Linked DNA regions of Homo sapiens: regions 2 and 3 are each reported to be linked to region 1. The links are microRNA targets in miRTarBase. Many come from high-throughput screens and were not tested one by one. Region 1 holds a microRNA gene; each other region holds the end of a gene's coding sequence.
What was found. The annotated mature microRNA hsa-miR-3934-5p reads UCAGGUGUGGAAACUGAGGCAG and lies in region 1 at 4,965-4,986, shown strand. An mRNA with a match to its seed (bases 2 to 7 or 8) in the 3' UTR can be bound and repressed. Matches are read on the target gene's strand: a 7mer-m8 pairs with bases 2 to 8, a 7mer-A1 pairs with bases 2 to 7 and ends in A, and an 8mer does both.

Region 1 (7,118 bases):
TGAAGTGCTAGTCCCCTCACCAGCCACCTCGGGCTCAGGCAGGTGTCACCTGTATGGCCTGTAGGACCTCGCTCATTCAGCCATTCGGGCTTCCCCTGAGTTCGAGAAATTCTCGCGTTTACTCCTGGAGTCCTCGGTTGCTGCTGCGGGAGGGCTGCAGCTGCGGCAGGGCAGGATCTCCACTAAGTGGCTGCTGCTTTAAATAGAAGTGACCCAAATAGCCCAGAGCGAGCTGTTGGAAGCGCTCATCCCGAGAACAAATGCCTCCAACCCCCGGAAGCTGGGTCCCCTCCAGCAGGTGACCCTGCAGTGGCTCTTGAAGGCTGATGGTTTCATTCCCGCCCTCTGCACCCTCAGGTCTGGAGAGGGACAAGTTTGATAACAAGACAGTGTCATTTGAGGAACACATCAAGCTGGAGCACAACATGTGGAACTACTTGTACTTCATTGTGCTGGTCCGCGTGAAGAACAAGACCGACTACACGGGCCCTGAGAGCTACGTGGCCCAGATGATCAAGGTGTGAGCAGGGGCTGTGCCAGGCCTGTGGGCCCAAACCAGCCATTCTAGAGTCATCACTGTGCACCAGAGGCCTCATGGTTTTAGCTTCTGAGTACCCTGGGCCCTGGAGAGGAGTGGCCCTATCTGACTGTTGGCCCTAGGAGGCCAGGCAGAGGGGCTCGGACAGCTGCAGACACTTGTTGAAAGGTCAGCAGGGCGAGGAGCAGCAGCTGGAAGCAGCTCTGGGCTGCACGGAAGCCGCTGCTGCAGAGGGGCCTCCTCACACTTCTGGGTGTCAGGAAAAATCCCACAGCAAACCCATGCGCCCCGAAGAACACGTGTGGTATCCCTGGGCCTGTCGTGCAGTGATGCTGAGGAGGGGTGGAGTTGGGGAGACCCTGCCCGTGGCCAGTGATCTGTGGGCCGCTCTCAGGGAGTGTTTTCTAGCTCGGTGGGAAGGCAGGCTGCTTCCTAAAAAGTCTGAATTAGATGATCCTGGGCTGAAGGGGAGCCTGGAAAAACTTTAAAAATCACTTACAGAAATCAAATGTCATCTGTCCAATTTCTGTAATAATGGAGTGAAGGCAATGAATCATAAAGAAGGAATTATTTATCGTTTAGTCTGTATTTCAAACTGATCTTTGTGTACAGGTTTATCTGTTGGTCTGAGAATTCACAGCTTACTACAAGGAAGCTGAGAATTGCTTGGTGCCCCCTCCCCCCCCGACTCCTCTGTCCTGGGAAACGTGGCTTTGCCTCCCAGACACGTGTCAGATGCCAGCTCTCCTCAGCGGAGCCTCCTGATCCCTCAATTTGCCATCTGTCTGACTCGCGTCTTCCCGGGGCGTGGGGCGTGCTTGTCAGGCAGGCGGGCGGGAGGAAGGAAGGAAGGAGATCCAGGGTCTGTCTGGGTGCAGAGGCCTTCCTCCACCTCTCAGGGGGTGTTATGAGAGTAAACAGATGGTGCTGATACCAGCAAAGGACTCAAACTCAGCTGCCGACGCTGCCTAACGGAAGTCAGCCTGTCTCGGTGGCAGAGGGTTGACAAGAGGGTTGACTGCCAGCTCACTCTGGCCCCGGGGAGGACCAGGTCAATTCAGATTTTCCCATGACACATCCCTGACGAGTAGTTTTGTTAAGGGTGTGGCAGAAGCCTCCCCCCACATTACTGTTTTTCTAAATGAGGCCTTTCTAGGCCGGGCCCACGCCTGCTTAACCCACTGGTGATGTTTTTCAGAACAAGAACCTGGACTGGTTCCCCCGGATGCGGGCCATGTCCCTTGTCAGCAATGAGGGCGAGGGGGAGCAGAATGAGATTCGGATTCTCCAGGACAAGCTCAACTCCACCATGAAGCTGGTGTCCCACCTCACTGCCCAGCTCAACGAGCTCAAGGAGCAGGTGTGCACCCCGCCTGATCCCAGGCCCACCCTGGGTTCTATCCCTGGGCAGTCCCTGCCTGCCTTCATCCTTCCTGACCCACCCTCTTCCCCACTGGCCTCTGGCCCTGGGCCTGGATGAGAAGGCAGGTGCCAAACCCACTCTCCCCTGCATGGCAAGTCAGACTGGGGTTGACAACCCCTGCCTTGGGCCGCTAAAGACAAGGCCAAGTGGAAACTTTAGTACAGGGTGGTGGGGCCCTCTGTCTCTCATCCCCTTCCTCTGACAGCTGCCAGGTAGGTCCTTTGAGGGGATCCCCATCACTGGAGATGGGGGAGTTTAAGGCCCTCTTGCCTAGACATCCTCTTCTGCATCTGGCAGTGCCTGCATGAAGATGAGGCAGCCTCTGTTAGTGGGCTGGTTTCCCAGCTGCATCAAATCCAGGGTTTGTGACACGCTAATTGAGAACAAGGGTTTGGTGCTGACATCGACATCCTTAAAGCACCCCGAGGGGCCCTGGCCCGCCGCCAGTGCCGAATAGCAGCTGGGCCCACAGGGGAAGACGGGTGCCAAGCTCTTCCACAGCACCCATGGAGGGAAGGTGCCAGGCGGCCTGACCAGGCCTGTTGGCATCTGCTTAACCCTAGATGACGGAGCAGCGGAAACGCAGGCAACGCCTAGGCTTTGTGGATGTCCAGAACTGCATTAGCCGCTGAGGAGAGCCACCGAAGGCCCCAACAGGGGATGCTCATCACTGGAGACTGCGACTGGGAAGAACACTGCCCCCTCCCTCGGGTTGGGTGGCCCAGCCAGCTGGCCAGCCTCCACTCCCACTCTGCCAGACACCCTGACACCCACCCAGGCTTTGAAGAGCATGGAGGGGGAGCCTCAGAGCTGACAGTCCTGCTTAGAGCCCTTAAAAAGACTTGAAAGTTCACTGGGACTCAGTTTACCTTAATGCCTTAGCAGAAGATAAATCCTACCTAGAGACCTTTGTTCCTTAAAGCAATAACTGACAACTCTTTGTAGTCCTCCTTGTGGGTAGTTAAGAGTGGGGTCACCCCTTTAACTCCAAGCACTACATTTTGGCGGCTGCCGGCCTCTGGGGGAGGTGGCAGTTATGCTGTTACTAGTGATTTTAGGGCTTTGTTATTTAACTTATTTCAAGGGTGCTGTGCTCAGCCCTGCCCATGGCTGTGCAGCTCCCTCCGTGCCTCAGATCTGCTGTAGCCAGTGCAGACCTCACTGTCGTGTCCATGCCACCCCCGGCATGGCTCCAGGTGGCCTGGTGACTCCATGATGGACGATCTTGCTCCCAGGACCTGCCTCTTCCCAGGCTTCCTGGGGAAGAGTTGTACGCCCAGGCAACAAGGGCTGAGCTGCGCTTGCGTGGCTGTTTCATGACCGCTTGTTTTTCTCCTTTTGGTGTAATGTTTTACAAATCCTTTGGCCTGAGAACTAATATGTTAATTGCCTTAAATAAATTAATAGAAATCTAGTCCGTTAAAAAGGGATGTGTTTCCTGCACTCCCCCGGGGGCTGTGGGGATTAACAGGACACACTGGCAGAAGACAGGAACAAGAGCCCCTCCCTGCTGGCCTGGCCTCTCAGGCTCTCAGGAGATACGCTGAGTGACATCCTGTCTCAAGGGTCCTCCCCTGAGATTTGCCTACCCAGAACTGCATTTCGGCATAACTGGTTTCTACGGCAGTCCTGTCGATTTTATTTTATGCATTTCAGAACATCCTGAGGAGTCTAGACACAGACGAGGTTAAGAACCCACTTCCACTTTGTACCCACCAGGGCCGCTGTGGGCCCAGCCCTGTCCCTCACGGTTCCAGAGAGAAGGATGCTCAATATCAGTAAGAGCCAAGGTTCCATGGAATAATGAGGTGACCCTGTGTGTGTCCTCAGCCAGCAGGGCCTCTGACTTGTGGCCACCTACAGAACCTGCCCACAGTGCTGAAGCCAACTGCAGCTGAGGCCCCGCTTGGCCAAGGCCTGTCTATAGCTTCCCTGTCCCTTAAGCCAACTGGGCAATGTGGGTTTTTGCAAGGTCAGGGATAGAGGCCTAAGGTCCATCCTTCTCTGAGTCAGTGGGGATGAGGGCCAAGCAGGCTTTTTGCCTCTCTCGGCCTCACACCTCCCTACTGCTTTCTGTTTGCAACAGGATGCCCTTTTCAGTATTTACTGCTATTTTTGGCTTCCTCCCAGGAGCTCCTACAACAAAAGGGAGCCTGAGTATCTTGCCAGGAGACACCAGACCCGTGCCAGAGGGGCGGGGGCTCCCGTGGCAATGCAGGAAGCACCTTGTGCCGAGGCCCCATTACCCTCATCAGGCCCAGAGGGAAACCTGCATTTCCTCTCCCCAGGAGATTTCCCTACCCTGAGCAGCAGTCACAGCAGATAGCTCAATCACCATCCCTTCTCAGGCTGAAACTTTCTTTAGAGCAGCAAGGGCTTCCTTTCTGGGAAAGCTAGAGGAGATTCCCAAACCGTAAGGTCAAGGGGAAACTGGGGCAGTTTTATTGACGATGGCAATGTACAAGACTCCACACCTAGGTATGTGCACGAGGTAAGGCCTGAGCTCAGGCCTTATGATCCTCCTCAGGACCCTTGGGGGCAAACTTCTCCTGCAGTTTCTTCCACATGCCTTTATCTATTTCCTTAAGCTCTTCCAAGGTGTCTGCAAAAGGGGAAGACAAAAAGAGAGAGGGACTGAAGTCTAAAACTTGATGACATAGATTGGACCCACTGGGCTTTCCCGACACAAGCATGGCTTGCTTTTCACACAGTGTGTTCCTGAAAAAGGTGGAGACCCAGCTCCTGAAGAGCAGATCAAACAGGTAACAGAAGTGACCGCTTGCGGGGACTGAGCACTGTGTGCCAGACTCTGTGCCCAGCACGCTGTCAGTGGTCTCCTGCCCTCTCCTCACCCTCGGCATCAAAGCGGGATGTGCTGCTCGTTGCCCTGCTCCGTATGAGGGCAAAGAAATGGCCCTGCGCTGTCCGCTGTGCAACCCACAGACCCAGATGCTTCATCGCAAAATTTGGCCTGCTCCACACAGCCCTTCCTGTCCCCAGTTTTCAGGTGTGGAAACTGAGGCAGGAGGCAGTGAAGTAACTTGCTCAGGTTGCACAGCTGGGAAGTGGAGCAGGGATTTGAATCCTGGTGTGTGGACTCAGCACATGCTGTGGAGTTGAGCAGGCACTGGGAGGGGGATGGCCTTGGGCCTGAATCCGAGCCCATCATCTCCCACTCTGGGTCCCCTCAAGCAAATTACTTAACCCTCTACGCTTCGGGTTCCTCATCTGTAAAATGAAGATAAAAACACACATCTGCAGACAACTTGGGGAGAGGTGAAAAAGTAAGAAAAAAAAAACCACACGTACCTCAAAAGTTGTAAGGATTAAAGAAAAGCATGGAGGTAACTCGCTTGGCACACAGCCCGCACTCAATGAAAAGGCAGCCATCATCCACCACAATGCAGGCGGGAGGGGCTCTTGTTTAAGAACATACACGTCCCTACACCCAGGAACCAAAGCAGGGTTTCTTGGCCTTGGCACTACCAACACTTTGGGCCAGATAATTTTTCGTCGTGGGCTGGCCTGTGCATCACTGAAGGCTGTTTCAAAGCATCCTGGCCTCTACCCACTAATGCCAGTAGCACCGCTGCCCGCACCACCAGTTGTGACAACTAAAAATGTCTCCAGACATTGCCACATGTCCCCTGGGGGGCAAAACCATCCCCCCAGTACGGAACCATTTGTCTAAAGTCTCTAGGGCTAATGTTCCATGAAATCTAATTTTACGTGCATGTTAAATTTTAGATATTCTTATAATATTGTTTTGCTTTACCAGCCTAAATTTTCACGTTAACAAAACTACTGGAGAAAAAAAGAGTATCTTTTCTGACCAAAAAAGGTAACAGAAAAAAGCCCCTGCTCTGGAGCTTTTCCAGAAGTCCATGTTTCCAGTGTCCAGGTGGACACTGAGGCCTCCCTTAGGCGCTTTCCATGACCCCAATCCCAGGGTGGACACACACATAACCCAGAACACAGCACATTTCAGACTTGCCAGGCCCTCAAAGCCTCTCACTACAAGGTGCTGCAGGTCTTTTCTTGTCCTGTCAGAGGAAACATTTGGTAAGCTTACGCCACACAATTTGCAACAAAAATATGAGGCTTGCTGTGAAAACAAATTCTCAGCAAATTTCCTGAACTAAACTCGCTGCCAGAACAAGCTGCAGCGCGGACCAATGGCGGGACTATCTCCCAGCCTTCGTTGCTGCCTGTTTTCCACTTGCAGAGGCTGCCCTGAGGTGAACAAAACAGAGGGCAGAGGCAGGGCCTCTGGAACTTACTTCCGCCCTCACTTCAAGTTCAAACTTTGCTCAAACTGTCCAGGGCCCTCACAATAATGTGCATCAATGCTGCTAATTACACGGACCCAGGGATATAGGAGTAAATTTACACATTAAAAAAAATTGCCAATAAAGTGATTCTGCCTGGCCAAAATATCTTCACCACAGTTTCCCAGAGAGTACTGGAATAAAAATAGGGTTAGAGTTGACATGTAATAGCAGGTGACACCACCAGGTTTTAATCTCAGAAGAGAGTTTTCTAGAAGCCCAAATCCTCAAAACTTAAGTTGCTGAAGGCTGCCAGAAGAAGAGGAAAGACACATTTCTAGAATACCAGAAGGAAATGTGTCAGGGCCATGCCCTCCCAGAAAAGGTTAACCTATTTTTGTATATAATATACTTGGCAACAAAAATAGTAATTTTCCAGTACCTGCCTACTTCATCCCTGGCTCTCCGGCCCCCCTCCTTAGGGACAATGGAGATAGGGAAGTAAGGAAAGGACGGGCTTGGCAGGATGTTTCCTTTCTTGATAATCAGAGTCTATCAATGACTCTAAAACATACCTAGTTAAACTCATATCTAACCCACAGACCACGTCCCCTGGGTCACATAACTCTTAGGCGGATATCCCCAAACACGTTTATTGAATGGTTTTTTGTTTTAATTAAAACCTTCATTGTTTATAAAGCCCTCTTAAGACCATAAAAATAAAATTATTTTCCTTCCATCCTGATTTCAACTACTTCCATTTGGCAAATAGGTATTCCTCTGTTCCCTGATGCCCAGCCTTGAATTTAAAAGCCCTAAAGATAGATTTTCTTTTTTAAATAACGCCTTTGACCTTCTCCACAGTATATGGTCAAAATGCATGCGCCCT
Region 2 (7,118 bases), not on the chromosome of region 1:
CCAGGCCAGAGTGCAATGGCCCGATCTTGGCTCACTGCAACCTCTGCCTCCCAGGTTCAAGCAATTCTCATGCCTCATCCTCCTGAGTAGCTGGGATTACAGGCGCCCACCACCACGCCCAGGTAATTTTTTTTTTTTTTTTGGAGACAGAGTCTCACTGTGTCAGCCAGGCTGGAGTGCAGTGGCGCAATCTGGGTTCATTACAGCCTCTGTCTCCTGGGCTCAAGCAATTCTCCTGCCTCAGACTCCTGAGTAGCTGGGATTATTGGTGCATGCCACCACGCCCAGCTAATTTTCATATTTTTAGTAGAGACAGAGGTTTCACCATGTTGGCCAGGCTGGTCTTGAACTCCTGACCTCATGTAATCCACCTGTCTCAGTCTCCCAAAGTGCTGGGATTACAGGCGTAAGCCACCATGCCTGGCTGCTAATTTTTAAATTTTTAGTAGAGGTGGGGTTTTGCCATGTTGGCCAGGCTGGTCTCGAACTCCAGACCTCAAGTGATCAGCCTGCCTCAGCCTCCCAAAGTGCTGGGATTACAGGAGTGAGCCACCATGCCAGGCCAGTTTTAAGTTTTTTAATATATAGAAAGAATATAAATATACATCATGCATGTACATATATCTACTGTTGGCATTTTTAAAAAATCAAAAGTACATTTTCCACATGTTGAAAAAATTGAATCTACACAGAAATACATTAAGTGAGGCCGGCCGCGGTGACTCATGCCTGTAATCCCAGCACTTTGGGAGGCCCAGGCGGGCAGATCACGAGGTCAGGAGATCGAGACCATCCTCACTAACACGGTGAAACCCCGTCTCTACTAAAAATATAAAAAAATTAGCTGGGCGCAGTGGCGGGTGCCTGTAGTCCCAGCTACTCGGGAGGCTGAGGCAGAAGAATGGCGTGAACCCAGGAGACAGAGCTTGCAGTGAGCCAAGATGGTGCCACTGCACTCCAGCCTGGGCGACAGAGCAAGACTCCGTCCCAAGGAAAAAAAAAATACATTAAGTGAAAAGTAAAAACTTTCTGGGTGCAATGGCTCATGCCTGTAATCCCAGCACTTCGGGAGGCTGAGGCGGGCAGATCACTTGAGGCCAGGAGTTCAAGACCAGTCTGGCCAACATGGTGAAACCCCATCTCTACTAAAAATACAAAAATTAGCCGAGCGTGGTGCCACACACCTGTAATCCCAGCTCCCCAGGAGGCTGGGGCACGAGAATCACTTGAACCCAGGAGGTGGAGGCTGCAGTGAGCCGAGATTGCACCACTGCACTCTAGCCTGGGTGGTGGAGTAAGACTCTGTCTTAGAGAGACTCTGCCTCAAAAAAAAAAAAAAGTTGTTATCTCTGACTGGGCAAATATATATATATATATATATATATATATATATATATATATATATATATATATATATATATATACTTTGTTGGGAATGACTGTAGTTTTTACTTTTTTTTTTTTCTGAGTCAGAGTCCTGCTCTGTTGCCCAGGCTGGAGTGCAGTGGTGCGATCTCTGGTTACTGCAACCTCTGCCTCCCAGGTTCAAGCAATTCTTCTGCCTCAGCCTCCTGGGTAGCTGGGATTATAGGCGTGTGCCACCACGCCCAGGTAACTTTTGCATATATATTTTTTTGAGACAGGGTCTCATTCTGTTGCCTAGGCTGGAGTGCAGTGTGTGATTATGGATCACTACAATGTCAACCTCTTAGGCTCAAGCAATCCTTCTACCTCAGCTGTCTAAATAGCCAGGACAACAGGTGTGTGCCTGGCTAATTTTTATTTTTTTGTAGAGACGGAGTCTCACTGTTACCCAGGCTGGTCTCAAACTCCTGCACTCAAGTGATCCTCTGCCTTGGTCTCCCAAAGTGCTGGGATTACAAGTATGAGCCACCACACCCAGCTACTTGTGAATGTTTTCAGAAAATGTTTCTATCATAAACTGGGAAGTACATCTTCTTTTTTAAAAAACATGTAATCAGGCCGGGCGTGGTGGCTCACGCCTATAATTCCAGCACTTTGGGAGGCCAAGGCAGGCCGATTACTTGAGGTCAGGGGTTTGAGAACAGCCTGGCCAACATGGCGAAACCCCAACGTGGTGAAACTCCGACTCTACTGAAAATACAAAAATTAGCCAGGTGTGGTGGCGGGCACCTGTAATCCCAACTACTCAGGAGGCTGAGGCAGGAGAATTGCTTAGACCCAGGAGGCGGAGGTTGCAGCGAGCTGAGATCGTGCTACTGCACTCCAGCATGGGCAACAAGAGCGAAACTCCATCTCAATAAATAAATAAATAAATAAATAAATAAAAGCAATAGTCATGAACATTCTTGTGTATGTACCTTCTAGTGCTTTTCCAAGTATGTATATTTAAGATAAATTCCTATTTTTGCCAGTTCAATGGATATGTAAATTTAAATTTTGATAGATTTTATCAAACTGCCTTTGTAAACATGGCTGTATCAACCTAGACTCCTATTAAAATCATATATGTTCTTGTTTCTTCACATCCTTGCTAGCTCTGGATATAACCCGTGAAACCTTAAAAAAAGGCTTCTCCTATCCCATTTCAGACCACTTTTATCAGAATCTCCTAGGGTTAAGAACTAGGCATCAGTGCTTATTTATTTATTTAAATTAAGTTTTTTGGTAGAGATGGGGGTCTTGCCATGTTGCCCAGGCTGGTCTCGAACTCCTGAGCTCAAGCAATCCACCTGCCTTGCCCTCCCAAAGTGCTGGGATTACAGACATGAGCCAATGTGCCCAGCTCATTTTGTTTTGTTTTGAGACAGGGTTTTCCTCTCTCACCCAGGCTAGAATGCAGTGGTGGCATCACTTGACCTGAGCTCAACTGATCCTCCTGCTTCAGTCTCCTGAGTGGCTGAGACTACAGGCATGCACCACCACACCTAGCTAATTTTAATTTTTTTGGTAGAGACAGGGTTTTCCTATGTTGCCCAGGCTGGTCTCGAGCTCCTGGGCTCAAGCAATCCCCCTGCCTCGGCCTCCCAAGGTGCTGGGATTATAGGTGTGAACCACCATGCCAGGCTTGCATCAGTGTTTTTTTTTTTTTTTTTGTAGAGACGGAGTCTTGCTCTGTCACCCAGGCTGGAGTGCTGGAGTGCAGTGGTGCGATCTTGGCTCACTGCACCCTCCGCATCCTAAGTTCAAGCAATTCTCCTGCCTCAGCCTCCCGAGTAGCTGGGACTACAGGCGCACACTACCATGCCTGGCTAACTTCTTTTGTATTTTAGTAGAGACAGGGTTTCACCATGTTGCCTAGGCTGGTCTTGAACTCCTGAGCTCAGGCAATCCTCCTGCCTCAGCCTCCCAAAGTGCTAGGATTACAGGCGTGAGCCACCGCGCCCGGCTGCATCAGTTTTTTCAAAAGTTCATCAGGGTGAAAAGGATACGTAGCCCAGTCTTGTGAATCTTCTCATTCACTGGTTCAACAAATACTGCACTACCAACCACATAATTAGTACAAAGCCAGGCAACAAATACTTGAATTCTTGATAAAAAAAGAAAATAAAAACATGCTTCAATTTTTCTCCAGAGAATGAGGCAGGGGACAATAAAAACCAATCTATATCACCTAACCTAGTAGGCACTAAGAGGCTGATCTCATTTGCTTTGAGGACAAGGCTGCTTCTCACCCCTTCCGCATCTGTTTTCCTCTTGATGAGCCCCTAAAGAGATGCAGCAGAGTTGGGAGGTGGCTCAGGGAAGACAGCAGAGTGGAAAGGTCAAGCTCAAAGGTAAAGGGAGGGGATAGAAGCAGATTACCTGTCGACCGTCTTCTTAAGTCCCATGGCCTTTTGAAAACTCTGCAAGAAAAGGTAGTTCTGTTGATCTGCCTCAGTCTCCAGAACCTCTATTCTAATGAGAGACATAGACCTTTTTTTTTTTTGAGACAGAGTTTTGCTCTTGTTGCCCAGGCCAGAGTGCAGTGGCGTGATCTCGGCTCACCGCAATCTCCGCCTCCCGGGTTCAAGCGATTCTCCTGCCTCAGCCTCCGAGTAGCTGAGATTATAGGAATGCACCACCATGCCGGGCTAATTTTGTATTTTTAGTAGAGATGGGGTTTCTCCATGTTGGTCAGGCTAGTCTCGAACTCCTGACCTCAGGTGATCCGCCCACCTCAGCCTCCCAAAGTGATAGGATTACAGGCGTGAGTCACCGCACCCAGCCACATAGACCTTTTTGAGAAAGCAATTTCCTGGGGGGAAATAGGGAGAGGAAAGCTCTACTTTCAGAATGGATCAAAGAAAACACGCAGGGGTTGGATAGAACACATATTTGAATACCTACTGTGTACTAGACACAGCCTCCCACTCCTGTTACTAACTACATTATACCCTTGTTACATCAAAAGCCTTTCCCAGTAAAAGATGCACTTATAGTAAATTGATCTGGAAACTTCATCAAACTTCAACCCAGCCCCTCCTTCCAACTCTGCATACCTCTTCTACTTTTGTCATCTTTTCCACAGACATGTCTATAGATTTGCTTGATACAGTCTGAGGAGACTGACAGGCTCCTCTGTTTAGTTCAGTAACCAAGGTTTCAGTAGTCATAGTAACATTTACACCTCCAACAATAACCCTGGGCCTAGGAGTTGATTGGCCACCTGGCCTGTTGCCCCAGAAACCTTGAGAGAATCCTTGTTCTGCAGCCTTCTGTTGGTGACACAGGCATCTATGAGCAAGGGCCACAGTCCTGATTTTAGGATTTCTTGTGCTAGGGTCCCAAGGAGTATGTGTATGGTCGTAGGTCCAGGGTATGCACACAGTCCCACCAATTCTCTGGAGGCAAATCCTCATGCCCTATACCCTGTTAGAAATGTGCAGATAACATTATCAAATGCCTGTTTTATTAAAAGACAACTATAAAGGACTGATTCATACGTTTTATTTGATAATAGTTCATTTTATTAAATAATTTATAAAGTCAGACCAGTGCATTGGGCTTGTTAGGGGAAACCATTCCTTCCTACTGTCACATAGCCTGGCAGATTATATCAGGTGCCAAAACATTCCCTTTTATTCAATTTATTAATGAGAGTGTGGAATTAAAGTAGATCCTTGCATGTCAGGAAAGCTGCAACACATCTGGTTTAAGTGGAGCACAAAGGTAAGTTATTCCACATTCACCAACTTCCCCACTTGACCTCCCACCAGTTCCTGTCTGCTTTTTCCATCAATCAACTCTAAGATGCCCTAAACCCAAACAGTTCCCATTCAACTGTGCACAAAGGTATAGATATGGAAGACATCTCACTCCAACTCTCACCTTTGGAATTAAATAAACCTGGAACAGGGAAGGTGAACTATGGCTGAAACCAAGTGAAGATTTTTAAGAAGCTTTGACAGAAACATTAAGAATAACACCTGAATGCAAATCCAGAAAAAAGCGCTACTGGGGGAAAATAGTCTTAGCCAATGTTCTAAAAATGCTCATAAGGAAGGGTTGGGGAATTACCCTTTAGACACAAGCTCTAAGAACTCTGGATACAACGGGAACTTGGATGGATACAGTCTGGGCCTGCTGGGCCAGATGTTCCGAGGGCGGCCCGGCAAGCAGCCTGTCTTGCACATTGCAACTGACTGGCTTAATCTACGGCAAGAGTCCTTCAGCTCCGTCACAGAGTACTCTCCAATGTGTTATAGTTATCCTTAAAGCTCTTCAATTCAAGGAAGTGCTTGGCACGTTTACTCTTCTGACTGGAGGGGAGGTATGTCACCTGGATGGTTGTTGGGGAGACCTCAGGGGACTGAGTTAGGTCTTTGGCTGCTGACTGGTGATGTCGCTGAGAGCTCCCAATTCGTGCTTTAACCCTGAAGAACAGAGAGGGGAGGTCATTGACAGAATGAGGACTAATCAAAGAAATCAGGGCTTATCCCAGGCCATAAATGCAGCAATAGTCACAAATAGTTATTTGTGTCCTATCTGTCCTATTTTGTAAACTAGTTACTAAAACCCCATCTAGTAGCTTAGAAATACAAGAGGCTGAGCGCGGTGGCTCACGCCTGTAATCCCAGCACTTTGGGAGGCCCAGGCAGGTGGATTGTTTGAGGTCAGGAGTTCGAGACCAGCCTGGCCAACATGGTGAAACCCTGTCTCTACTAAAAATACAAAAATTAGCTGGGAGTGGTGGCGGGTGCCTGTAATCCCAGCTACTCGGGAGGCTGAGGCAAGAGAATCACTTGAACCCAGGAGGCAGAGGTTGCAAGCCAAGATTGCGCCACTGCACTTCAGCCTGGGTGACAGAGCAAGACTCCATCTCAAAAAAAAAAAAAGTAGCAGAGAGGCTGGGCATGGTCACTTATACCTGTAATCCCAGCACTTCAGGAGGCAGAGGCCAGAGATCGCTTGAGCCCAGGGGAGTTTGAGACCAGTCTGGGAAACAAAGTGAGACCCTATCTCTGCAAAAAATTAGCCAGGTATGGTGGCAAGCACCTGTAGTCCTGGTTCCTCAGGAGGCTGAGGCAGGAGGATCGCTTGAACCCAGAATTCGAGGCTGCAGTGAGCCATGAATGTGCCACTGCACTCCAGTCTGGGCGACAGACTGAGACCCTGTCTCTCTCTCTCACACACACCCTAAAAAAGTAGCAGCACTCCAGCCTGGGTGACAGAATAAAGGCCCTGTTTGGGTACCCTGACACACACCTACTCATACCAAAAACAACTAGCAGCAGAGAAACCAATTTCCCAGAGTTCTTGCCTCTGGCTCAAGCTTTTTTTTCAGAGACAGGTATCCCCAATATAGGTATCACCTTGTTTTGCAGATTAGGAAACTAAGGGTCCAATAATTAGCTTGTATGAGGTCACAAAACTAGTTAAGTGACAGACCTGGGATTCAAACCTAAGTTTGTCAGATTTCAAAGCCTATACTCTTCACTAAACCCAATGAACATTCCTAGAAACTACAAATCAAACATAATTTTTTGTTTTTGAGATGGAGTCTTTTTCTCTGTTGCTCAGGCTGGAGTGCAGTGGCACAATCTTGGCTCACTGCAACCTCTGCCTCCTAGGTTGAAGCGACCTGTCTCGGCCTCCCGAGTAGCTGGGGATTGCAGGTGCATACCACAATGCCCAGCCAATTTTTCTATTTTTAG
Region 3 (7,118 bases), not on the chromosome of region 1:
TTGAGCTTTGGGGGATCCAGGAGACTTGGGTGGCTGGTTCTGAATAAGGAGGCACCTGCAGCTTCATAAGAGAGCCTTTGACTGAAGGTGTTTTAGACTTTCGTTGTTACCTGAACAGAGACCCCCCCTGTAGAATACATATGCTCACATGTTGATGTGCCATCCCAGGGGGAGTGTGTGTCCCTGTGTAAGAATTTCAGGGTCCCTGCGTCCCTGAAATCCATCAGCCACTTTTGTTTGCTCGCATAACCTCTCTGTCCAGGCAAAGTGTTCTTTGCAGTTAAACACCCCAATAAATGTAATTAACATTCCTTGCAACTTTCCCATCCTAATTGTTGCAGCCTGGGCCCAGGAGGACAAAGTTTGCTCTGTGTGCATGTATCAGTGTGGGCACCAGCGCTGATGACCTGTGTGTAATAGCAGTGACTTTGGGCTCCGTGTTCTGTAATGCAGTGTGGGTCCAGGTAGCCCTGGCAGTCATAAGAGGGAAGATGGGTTCGTAGGATGCTCAGGCCCTCTCTGAAGAAGTAGGATATGCTGCTCTTCCCTGCTAGCTTTTGTAGAGAATGCAGCATTCTGAGACAGGCTCCCAGTTCTGCAATGGGAACTTAGTAAATTGCGTAACTCCTATTAGGATATCTCTTGTAAGCTCCAGCATTATGAATACTATTTGGGGCTTTGCCTCATACCCTCCACCCCAGGCGCTCTGCCGATACTTTGCAAACATTTATTGCAGTTCGTGTTAGTTTGTGAAATCAGGAGCCCTCGGTAGTTGCAGGGCACTGCTTACTGGACGAAGGGGTAAATAGCATTCCTGGAGCCTTTGCTGTTAGTGCCTGTGGGCGCTGTTATTGGGAAGGCTTTGTTTTTCATAGCAGCTGGTGTGGAAATAATGGCTTGGTTCCTCTCTCTTGCAGAACCCAGCTTAGACTAGAAAGTCTAGAAGACACACACATAATGAAGGGGGAAGATGATGCTTTGTCAGACAAACATGGCTGCCCAGCCTACGTGAGCCCTGAGATCCTCAACACCACTGGGACCTACTCCGGAAAGGCTGCGGACGTTTGGAGCCTGGGGGTGATGCTCTACACCCTTCTGGTTGGACGATACCCCTTCCATGACTCAGACCCCAGTGCCCTTTTCTCCAAAATTCGGCGTGGACAGTTCTGCATTCCTGAGCACATTTCCCCCAAAGCCAGGTGCCTCATTCGCAGCCTCTTGAGACGGGAGCCCTCCGAGAGACTCACTGCCCCCGAGATCCTACTGCACCCCTGGTTTGAGTCCGTCTTGGAACCCGGGTACATCGACTCAGAAATAGGAACTTCAGACCAGATTGTTCCAGAGTACCAGGAGGACAGTGACATTAGTTCCTTCTTCTGCTAATCCCCAAAACCTCAGAAACCTCATAATTCTTAACACCTGGCATTTCCATTTCTAAAGATGGACAGGCCCTTTGGCGTGGTACCAACCAGATAATGACTGCATCAGGATGAAAGCTGCTGAACTCGGCATGGCGCCTCCTCTTCTCTGTTGGGATGAGTGACTTTATTGATTTGAGCAGCATATGCTGTGATTGGCTGCCCTGCAAATTTGTTTCCCTTAAGGAACCCTCACCAACTATCTCTGCTGGATTTGGGAGTTCCGCATCTTTTGTGGAGGGCAGAGTATGGACATCTTACACCCGGTGGTCAAGTGTGTAATAAACTTGAGCATTCGAATGGGAGAAAAAGCAAATCGCACAATGACATATTTTGAGTAATAACCGTATTTTTCACAGGGTGACAAATTGGGCCAATAAATCTGCCATCTTTGAACTCATCTTTGGTGGCTAGACTGCTACGGCAGCTTCTCTGATGGGAAAGTTCCTTTTTTGGCTTAACACTCACCCTTTCTTCACACTCACATTTACCAATGACTCTGCTCCGTTTTTGGAGCAGACTGTTTTAAGTTGCTCAGGAGCCTGATGGAACCATGAACCGAGACTCTTCTCTGTTTCCTGCCAAGACCTCATCTGCACTAATGCCTTCTCCCTGACCTTGACACTTCCCCCTTTAGCTATAAAAGCACTTACCAGCCGAACGTGGAACAGTATCACAAAAGATTCCATCTCCCAACGATTTCAGAACTCTGAGCTCAGAGAGACTCCAGATTTTAAAAAATAATTTGAGTGCTTGGAAACTATTAGCTTTTTAAGTTCCTTCCAAATATGTTAGTACCTACCCTTTACTTTTTCCCCAAGACCATCTCAGGGTGGAGCATTCTGTCTAAGAGAAGAAAGATAAGGAGGCTCCCACCCACCTCTCCCAAGAGCAGACATTAAACATCTTTGTGCTTTGAAGAGAGTGAATTTTGGATAGTCTTGTGATTCTCAGACTAACTTCCAGAATTATACTTTAACCCCTCCCAGATATGGTCCGCCTTTGGCATTGTGTGTACATCTGCAGTTTTGCATGGTGGGTTGTTAATATTTCAAATGTGTGGTTTATGAATACGTCTGTATAATCGGCTTCTGGAGTGAAACAGCAAACCCCAAATCTTCAAAGTTGGAAGGAACTTTAAAAATCATCCGGTCCAATCTCTTTCCTCTTTCTGCCACCTCCCAAGGCAGAAATCCCCTCTTCAGCTTCTTTTGTAGGTGGGAATCCAGCCTCTGTTAGATATGTCCAGAGATGGAAACTCACTCCCCTACAAAAGATGGAGCTTAATGGAGAAATTGCAACTTTCATTAAAAAACAAATTCAGATGAAATATCAGTAACTGTCTTGGACAGTGCTGAAATCAGGTGGTTAAACGGGTAAACAAAATATACTGTATTTTGAGAAATGGCACAAAAACAGGCAGTCATCTTTAAGGGCTATGCCTAGGCAAACTACTAACATGCATTGTGAGAATGCCGTGTATACCTCACGTACTGTGTACTTTGTACATATATTTTACCTTTTATACCTATGTTCGATTTTGTTTTGTTTTGTTTTGTTCTGGCTTTGAGGCTTGTTTTGTTGTCTGTGTCTGTCTGAATAACCTGCGTGTCTAAAACCACGTGAAATGTGAATGATTATTGGCAATATTACCTTGACAGAATCATGGGACTTTGAGAAGAGGGAGGACAGAGGCCTCTGTCGCACTAACGCTCTCGTGGTTGCTCGACTGTTGTATCTGTGATACATTATCCGACTAAGGACTCTGGGCTGGCAGGGCCTTCTGCCGGGAAAGCTAGAAACACTAGGTTCTTCCTGTACATACGTGTATATATGTGAACAGTGAGATGGCCGTTTCTGACTTGTAGAGAAATTTTAATAAACCTGGTTTCGTAAATAGGTGTGGTGAATTTCTTTCGAGTTCCATCTGCTTTGCCTTTTGCAATTTCATGCAGAGGTTGCAAAGGTCTCTGGCCTCAGGACTTACAGTCTAGTTGGGGGTGAGCAGCAAGGGGAAGGTGGAAAAGTAGAGATGATGAGGATCATCGATGACCTTTGGCAGACTTGAACCCATTTGCTTTTCTCATTTCAGTGGGCAAATTTATTTTGATGGATGAAGCCCATTGGGTGTTGATACGTGCTTTGGGTTGAATTTAGACTCGGGAAACATTTTTTATTTTTTATACTCTTTCATAGCAGAATCAGAATCAAGAAACGTTTGAAGGTGAGCATTCATAAATTAACCTTGAGTTGTAAAAATCAGCTTGTCTTTTTTGGGCCGTGGACCCTTGAGAATTTGATAAAGCTATGACCACTCCTGAGAACAGTGTCACATGTATAAAACAAAATTTTGTTATCATTGCAGAGGTTCACACAGATCTCTGAAGGCATCATGGGACTTCCGATTGTGAACCAATCCCTCTTCATTAGACTTAATTAAAATGGCTAAGCAAACCATTTTCTTTTTTTTCTTCTCTTATTTTTTGAGACGGAGTCTTGCTCTGTCGCCCAGGCTGGAGTGCAGTGGCGCAATCTCGGCTCACTGCAACCTCTGTCTCCCAGGTTCAAGTGATTCTCCTGCCTCAGCCTCCTGAGTAGCTGGGACTACAGGCGCCCGACACCATGCCCGGTTAATTTTTGTATTTTTAGTAGAAACGGGGTTTCACCATATTGGCCAGGCTGGTCTTGAACTCCCAACCTCATGATCCACCCACCTTGGCCTCCCAAAGTGCTGGGATTACAGGCGTGAGCCACTGCGCCCGGCCAAGCAAGGCATTTTCTTTCTTTTACTTTTTTCTTTCCATAAGTGTGAAAATGGAAATAAAAGCAAGGAAAATACTAAGGTGACATTAATTTGAATCACAAAAGTAGAGAAAGGAAAAGAGTTTTTTATTGTTTATAGCTTAACTATTTATAGCTTCACTTCAGAATCTAGTCTAAATGAAGTAAATTTGTATCCAGATTGATTTTTAAAAATACTTCACATTGTAAAATGTAACAACAGAAAAATGCACATATAAGTGTGTAGCTCAGTAAATTTTCACAAACAACACACAGGCATAACCAATAGATCTAGAAAGCAAAACACTGGGAGGGCCTCAGGAACCTCTGCCTGCCCTTTTCAATTTTTGCCTGGTGCCTGCTCTAAGCGTAACCACCATGGGATGGGATTTTAATTCTAACCTGTATAAGTTAGGATGAGGACCAATTCATCAACTCTGGACTCATACGAAGAGGCAGACAGAAGTTAGTGATGACACAATTACCCTTTTTTAGGACTCAGGCTGGGATTGGCCAGGAAAGCAGACACTGAAGTTAGAGCAACTCAGGCCTTGTGACCCAGGAACTTAAGAAATGTAAAAGTCATCTCAGAAGCAACGTGGGAAATGGCCAAATGCCTGGGTAGCTTAGGAACTCAGAAGTTGGGGGTTGGTCTCTGGCCATCCCATGAATAGGACTTTAAACCCCAAAGTTCCTGAAGCAGGCCTCACAACAGACCTTGTTGCCTGCTCCAGTGAACCCAGACAAGGCTCAGCGTGACTTCTTGGGCATTCAGGATGCTAATACTTCGGACTTCACCGAGGTTTTAATCTAAGGATTTCAAAAGACTTTGCAAGCAATTAAGGTTATAACACCTCTTTGTACTGTTGTTGCATGAACCAGATGGACAGAAATATGGGTCAGGATTGGCTGGGATGACATGTGATACCACAAATCCATACATTTAATCTCTTCTAAGGTTGGAACAAATCTGGGGCAATTGCAACCAGTTAAATTATATAAGGTCAGAATGAGTGTGCTGAAAAGCTGGCTGCTTTTATTTTCCCCTGTGTCATCAACATACTTGTCATTTGAGGAAGTCATCCAAGTAACATCTCAATAACCTTTTATTCATGTCATATTTTCTGGAAGTTTCTCCTCTCCTCCCCAGGGAGTCACAGCACATGAGTGAAACAGGCAAGTCAAATATTTCCCTGAAGTTGAAAAAACAGAGGCTCAAACGTCTTTCAGTAGCTACTCAGGAGTAAGCAGCTCAGAGCTGGGATATGAACTTGGGTCTTTGGACTCCATGCCCAATGTTGTTGCTCTGCCTACACACCACCACACAAAGTCTCCTGGTAAGAATAATGATGAGAGAAAGTGGTTCAAGACAAATACAAATACTGAATTTTTAGCTCCACAAATGTCTTCAAATGACCCAGTATGTCAATTATAAATGTGTAGGCATTATGGAAGATGAGCAATCCATTATTCATTCAACAAACATTTACTGGGCACCTACCATGTGCCAGACATTGTGGTAGACCCTTGGGAAATAGATGACTGAGGCTCAGTTCTGGCTCACTGAATGGAAAGCTCCAAGAAGTCAGGGAGTGTGACAGTCTTGTTCTCCCCTGGCTCCTCAGCACCAGCACAGTGCCTTCCACAAGAAATTTGTCAAAAGCCAACATGGGCCAGGTGTGGTGGCTCATACCTGTAATCTCAGCACTAGCACTTTGGGAGGCCAAGGCAGGAAGATCACCTGAGGCCAGCTGGAGACTAGCCTGGGCAACAACAAAACCTCATATACATGTATATATACACACACACACACACACACACACACACACACATATATACACACACACACACATATATATATATATATAAAATATATTATATACATATATATATGCATGCCAATATGGATGGATCGGTGGGTGGGTAGATGGGTGCATGGGTGGGTGGGTGGGTGAATGGATGGATGGATGAGTGGACAGGTAGGTGGATGAATGGCAATCCCCTAGCAGCTCAGAGTCTAATGGACCTCTAAGTCAAAGAGCCAAGGGCACAGAAGTGGAAGTCTTGTGACTAGGATCTCTTCCTAGTGCCAAAGTTTTTTTTGCTATATGACTGTGAATAAGCAGTCTGCTGGTTCTTATTTGCTCATCTTTTTTAAATTTTTAATTTTTTGAGATGGAGTCTCACTCTTTTCCCAGGTTAGAGTGCAGTGGCATGATCTCAGCTCACTGCAACCTCTGCCTCCCTGGTTCAAGTGATTCTTTTGCCTCAGTCTCCCTAGTAGCGGATTACAGGCACCCACCACCACACCCAGCTAATTTTTGTATTTTTAGTAGAGACAGGGTTTTACCATGTTGGCCAGGCTGGTCTCGAACTCCTGACCTCAAGTGATCTGCCCGTCTCGGCCTCCTAAAGTGCTGGGATTACAAGCATGAGCCGTTCTGCCCAACCAAGTGCTGCATACTTTCAAATGGCCAGATCTCTACCAGATCTTGTGTGAACTCAGGGCAAGATCTCACTTACCACTAAGGGGATGACCCAGAGCCATTCACGAAGCATCCACCTCCATGATCCAAATAGCTCCCACCAGGCCCCATCTCCAACATTGGAGATTACAATTCAACATGACATTTTCACAGGGACAAATATCCAAACCGTATCAGGCATTGCAGCAATGAAGAGTATGGAGTTGGCTTTTCAGCATGGCTTTGACTGGGAAAAGGAGGATCCCCACCACCCCCCAAAAAAGAGGAGTGGGATTTCATTACTAACCCCTGGCAACTGCCCACATCAGATTTCAGTTGATTCTCTAATGATTTGATTGCAGTCAACAACTTAGCGGTCCTAGAAGCATTACCTCTCAATCCTGCCAGACGTTTTGCAGTACACATCTTATTCTACCCTCTCAGTAACCCTGTG

Region 2: miRTarBase lists LTAP1 as a target of hsa-miR-3934-5p. Seed matches in the 3' UTR shown: 7mer-A1 at 5,021-5,027.
Region 3: the mRNA of TRIB1 is a reported target of hsa-miR-3934-5p. Seed matches in the 3' UTR shown: 7mer-m8 at 1,416-1,422.

The regions. Positions count from the first base shown.
Region 1 is chr6:33,693,188-33,700,305 of GRCh38, forward strand. It overlaps MIR3934 (microRNA 3934), which reads left to right and starts at 4,941; the gene lies at 4,941-5,047. It overlaps ITPR3 (inositol 1,4,5-trisphosphate receptor type 3), which reads left to right. Exons shown (of 58, transcript NM_002224.4): 56 at 358-518; 57 at 1,737-1,898; 58 at 2,525-3,375. The coding sequence ends at 2,593. UQCC2 (ubiquinol-cytochrome c reductase complex assembly factor 2) reads right to left here. Exons shown (of 4, transcript NM_032340.4): 4 at 3,577-4,563. The coding sequence ends at 4,466. RefSeq lists enhancers at 1-460, 1,273-2,472, 4,369-5,344.
Region 2 is chr1:154,201,812-154,208,929 of GRCh38, forward strand. It overlaps LTAP1 (lipid transport auxiliary protein 1), which reads right to left. Exons shown (of 7, transcript NM_001098616.3): 7 at 4,909-5,837. The coding sequence ends at 5,642. It overlaps CFAP141 (cilia and flagella associated protein 141), which reads right to left and starts at 4,522. Exons shown (of 4, transcript NM_001010979.3): 1 at 4,464-4,522; 2 at 3,787-3,827. The coding sequence starts at 4,496.
Region 3 is chr8:125,435,089-125,442,206 of GRCh38, forward strand. TRIB1 (tribbles pseudokinase 1) reads left to right here. Exons shown (of 3, transcript NM_025195.4): 3 at 918-3,315. The coding sequence ends at 1,383. Among named protein-coding and RNA genes, the nearest start is that of TRIB1, 8.3 kb to the left of the region's middle.